2 separate regions of the Homo sapiens genome follow, and region 2 is linked to region 1. Evidence: fine-mapped expression QTL. Tissue or cell type: whole blood. Region 1 holds a variant in brackets; the other region holds the start of a gene. All regions are shown on one strand. Distances are between the middles of the regions.

Region 1 (2,684 bases):
CTCTGGCCTCAGAGTGTGTATAGTTAGTTCTCTCTCTCTTTTTTTTTTTTTTTTTTTTTTTTTTTGAGACAGGGTCTTGCTCTGTTGTCCAGCTTGGAGTGCAGTGGCACAATCTCCATTCACTGCAGCCTCTGCCTCCCTGATTCAAGTGATCCTCGTGCCTCAGCCTCCCAAGTAGCTGGGATTATAGGCACGCACCACCACACCCAACTACTTTTTATATTTTTAGTAGAGACGGGTTTCACCATATTGGCTAGGCTGGTCTCAAACTCCTGACCTCAAGTGATCCGCCCACCTCAGCCACCCAAAGTGCTGGGATTACAAGCGTGAGCCACCATGCCAGGCCTGGAGTATATTCTTTACTAGAGGAAAAAGAATCCAAGCATTGGACCAGGCCACCTTCTCCTGGCACAGCCACATCCACATCCTTTCCTTCAGTGTTTCCTCTTGTCAGCACCCCCTCCCCACCTCAGCTGCTGTCTTCCTCCTCAACCATCCTCCTCCTCCTCACAGATCAGTGATCTCCTCAGATGGTCCCAGACAATCCGGGGGTGTCCATGCCAAACCTCAGCCTTCCATCGAAGCATCATGGCCTTGTACGTGTGAGGCTGCTCCTTCCTCTGATGACTGATCCGGTGTGCACAGGTTTCCGGACACAATCCCACCACCTTTGATGGGACCCAGTGGAATTACTCTAGTTAGGGGTTAGATTTTTTGTTAAAACTTTTTATTTTGAAATAATTTTAGATTTACAGAAGACTTGGAAAAACAATACAGAGAATTCCCACACACCCAGCTTCCTCTAGGGTTACTGTCTTGAACAACCACAGCTCTAAAACGTTAACACTGGGGCAGTGCCATTAACTACAACTTGATTCAGATCTCACCCGTTTTTCATTAATGTCCTTTGTTTGTCCAAAGATCCAGCTCAGGATCCCATATTGTCTTAGTCAATCTTTGACAATCCTTTACTCTTCCCTTGTCTTTTATGACATTGACAGCTTTGTAGAGTACTTACCAGGTATTTTGTAGACTGCCCCTTAATTTGTGTTCATCTGATGCTTTCTCAAGATTAGAATGAGGTTATCCATTTTTGGCAAAAATGCCACAGGGGCGATGTGCCCTTCCTGTACATCATAGCAGGGGGCACATATGCCAATATGCCTTATTGCTAGTTGTGTTGCTCTTGATCTCTCGGTTAAGGTGGTGCCTGTCAGCTTTCTCCACAGTAAAGCTGCT[G/A]ATTTTCCCATTGTAATTAATAAATACAACTGAGGAGATACTTTGAGATGATGCAAATACCCTGTTTCCTCTTTGGCCCTTTCCCACTGACTCAGGACACATTTGTGGATCTTGCCTCTAGCATTTTTACTGTGTAGTTTTGAGGTCAAGTAGCTGGATTTTTAGGGCCAAGGTGAAAGGAGACCATCACCTGGCCAAGCCACTGGGAGAGATTTGGAGAACATTCAGCTTGGACTACAGTCCTAATCTCTTGCCAGATGACTTCGGGCAACTCTTCAAACCACTCTAGTTAATTTCTCATCTTCATGAAATAGGTCTTTCTTCCACTTTTCTTCTCAAGAGGGTGAAAGAAATGACTCTAATTATGCACACCCAGTGGCAATGATGACAGGAGATCCTTTCCATGTGGCGATGAGACACAATGGCATCACTGATTTATTTCACGGGCTGATGGAGTTTTATTTCCAAGAGAGGAAGGAAGTCTGGGACTTTTAACCATAGGAGAAAACATTTCTCTGTATCTCAGTATTTTAACCACTGAAATGCTCACCCCTGCCAGTTGCAAGCCCACATTTTCACATATGACCTGTGATCCAGGAGTCCATTCAATGTTGGGCTTCATTTCACTGATTAATGTATTAGTCCAGATTTTGTAAACTCACTTGTCTTCTAGGCAAAAAAAAATAGATGTTTTCTAGATCAATGAAGTTAAAATGAAGAAGGAAAAAAAATGAGGACAGAAAATGGAGCAGGAAAGGGTTCGTAGAACAAAAAGAAACACCTGCTTTTGAGGCCAAGATTTTCCATGCAAGTCACTTGCAGGTGTCCTAGAAGAGCTGGTGAAGCTGTGAGCACAGGCGGAAAACACCAGCTGTGGTTGGTTTGGCACATCCCAGGCAGCTGGTGGTCTCATCTTCATTTAGGGAAAGCAGGCTTGTGGGATGCCTTTGGGCTGAAGAGCTTATGGAATGGGTTCCAAGTTATTGGTCTTTCCGAGGAATGGGAGCTGGGGTGGGGGTGGGGGATGGTTCTTCTTGTTCTTCCCTGAAGGTCCTGATCCCAGGAGGAGGCAGCAGCATCAGTAAGAGTCTGGGAACCAAAGCAGAATGTGGCGCCCCAGCCCAGCCGCTCACCCTGCGCTGTCCATGGCTTTCTGACTGCAGGAGAGAGCCCTGGCCTCTGCCTTGTGTCCCTGGTCCCTCTGTCTGAGCCAGGGCTGACCAGACCCTCTGTGGGCAAGGCCTTGATCTGCAGCAGATTCTGAAACCCTAATCACTTCCCCTGCCACTGGCTCACCTTAGTGTTAACTAGAGGTATGAAGGATGATCTGATCTGTCTCAGAGCCAGCAAGAAGCAACTTGGAGGCTCTTTCTTGATTCTGTTCCTCTCAATTTGTATGGGCACTTGGAAAGGTTTAACCAAAGTAAATGGAATAAGCTTTCCTA
Region 2 (2,684 bases), 190 kb before region 1:
TTTCTATACTGTGCTTTATTAAAATATAGAAAACCGAGACATCAGGAACGGAAGCACTTTGCACAAGGACAAAAGCCTGACAGAAAGAAGTTCAGATGGCCTCGGCTCTTCTCTTTTATCAGAATTCTCTCGAGGGTGTCATAATTAGAGTTCAGCCAAAACTAAGCCTACTGAAAATGCCTTTCAGCATTTTGTACTTTTGTGACCATGTGTATGAAAAGCTATGTGAACACCAGCTGAATGTTGGAGCCAGTTTGGCCAAGCTGCGAGCGGTGAGATTTTGTTTCAAAATATTTGCGTCTCCTCTACGAAGTGAAATCTTCTAATATTACCTGGACAGCCCCTTAGCAGACTAGGTTTAATAGAATCTGAGAAATGCCACCAGAGATCAGTTTCAGTTAATCCCTAAATTTGTTGCACTGATAAGAAAGAAGGCATCTTCTTTTCTCTAAAGCAGAATAATATGTTTTCATCCACTATTACTGCAACAGCTTTCATATCATCACAAACACACACAATCTCAAATGAACACTCACCACAAACACACACGGGGAAGCAGATGAAGTGATAGGCAATGAGTTTACATTTGCCCTTTTGCTTCCAATCTTCAACTAGCCAAACATTTCTGGCAAGTTTGCTATACTTAGGAGGAGATCATCCAGCTTCCAAATAAAGTTGTCTTTCACCTTATCTGGACGGAGTTGGGGCTCAGGTCTGCGATAGGGTATGCAGCTAGTCACAAATTAATATTATTTTCTGACATTTAAGTCCATTTTCCCATCCCAATGGGGCATGCCCCCCACTTTATGGTAATTTCCCCAGAATTTCTCCATTTAAAATGCACATAAGACAGGTGGCTTCATCCTCTGATGATCTCAGATAAATTAATTAAGTTGGCTGGAGGAAAGCCATTGGAGACAGTCGTTCCTGTAAGCATGTTTAATCAGATCCCGCCGCCTCTGAGTGAAGAGCGGCAGCCTCTTCAATATTCAAGGGGTCTCATCTCTCCTGCCAAGCCCTGCCAGCCCACGCGGGGCGGCAGATAAACTCACCTGCCATTCTTGGTCACAATCATCTCATTAGTGACTTCCTTGAATCTCTGCCAGAGAGGTGCATCCTCCAGGATGATCTGAAGTTGCTTCTCCGTAGGGTCGCCTTTTTCCCTCCCTGCCTGAAGCTCACTCTCCACCACATTGAGCAGATGAGAAACAGTGCCATCGCTGGGCTTCCGAGTGCCCAGCTCACTCATGGCCATAGGCACTTCTCGAACTTTGCCGAGAGCCGTTACCCAACTTGCCTGCTTCTAGCTTCTTCCTTCCCTCACTTGCCTGCTTTTCAAACCCACTTGAACAGTGCTTGGGGAGCGGAGAGAAGATACCCTGGCTCTTGCCTAAGCTCCTAGGATGACACCCCTTAAAAGTCTCCACATTATGCCACCAACCTGTTAAGCTTTAGTTGGGGAGCGGGGTGGAGGCAGGGGAGAGGTAGGGAAGAAAAAGCCCTCTCTTAATTACTCATTGGATCAGGTGGGAGAGAGCCTGGCTTTCCCATTGGCTGCCGTGCACAGAGTAGATATTTAAGAAGAGTACTCCATCCAAATTATCAGGCTTTTATCTTGTTGTACCTGAAGAGGTCTAATCGGTGTATTGAGGACCATTTTCCCATTAATTAAAATTATTCCAGGCCCAGACTGCACTGTCAGGCAAATCATGTTTGTGCATAAATCATGACATGTGGCACCTATAAAGAAAAGGGTCCTGGGGAGAATCGACAAACTTGATGCCCAGGCTATAAGCTACTCTCCAGCATCTTAGACGAAGGCTCTGGAGGGAAGAAAGCATGTATGGAAGGTCCAAGGCACTGTGCCAAGAAACATGACTACTGTACCAGAGAATAAAGGAAGACACTCTGTGTGCCACTGCTCAAGGGTCAGGGCTCCGGAGAAAAGAAAAGAGCTCAGAATCTCTTTCTCCCAGGGTGTCCCCTACTGATCATCTCTCTCCTGAATGTCCTATACTCGCTCACACCCCACTTTTCTCAAGGGCCCTCCTCACCTCCTACAAATGGAGCTGTGAATGTTGTCCTTCCTCCCTAGAGTCTAGAACCCCAATTTTTGTTATCTCTAGCCTTTGCCAGAGGAAGACAAAAAAGCAGCTAGTATCATATTAATCTCGCTAAGGAACACTCTGCCCCCAGTCAGTGAAAATAAACTGTTTACATTATTAGGCAGAGCAATTTCAATCTTTGGTCCAGAAAGGCATTCTGGTTTTCTCTTTAGACAATTCATCCTTATTTTGGCATTCCAGGATGAATCCCACATTCCCTGGGAAGAAACACTAGTAGAAAGCTTTTCTTTTGCCCACAACACACAGTACTAATGGCGAGTGAGTGGATGGCGGGTGGAAGAGACAGGAGCAGAGGAAGCTCTACCTCCTCTGGCCCCCAACCTTGAGTAGAGCCTGGGGGTTGTGAGTTTTTCTCTCATTTCAATACAAAGTAAGAAAACAAGAACATAAGGAAAACAAACCCAAAAAGGTAAGATAAAGTCAGGGTAAGGATGACAGAAAATGTATTCAGGATCTCCTATGCTACATACCTATGAAGCATCACATACAGCAAGGAACAAACAGAAATGGCCTGCGCCTTTACAGAATTAACAATATGATGGAGAAAATAAATGATAT

The links. PIP is the estimated chance that this variant, and not a neighbour inherited with it, causes the effect.
Region 2: TBX19 starts here. The variant in region 1 is fine-mapped to the expression of TBX19 in whole blood (TOPMed, PIP 0.91).

The regions. Positions count from the first base shown.
Region 1 is chr1:168,093,515-168,096,198 of GRCh38, reverse strand. The region is part of intron 3 of GPR161 (G protein-coupled receptor 161); the gene reads left to right. Among named protein-coding and RNA genes, the nearest start is that of GPR161, 42 kb to the left of the region's middle. The variant G/A (reference allele first, on the strand shown) is at 1,240.
Region 2 is chr1:168,279,662-168,282,345 of GRCh38, reverse strand. TBX19 (T-box transcription factor 19) reads right to left here and starts at 1,469. Exons shown (of 8, transcript NM_005149.3): 1 at 1,053-1,469. The coding sequence starts at 1,255.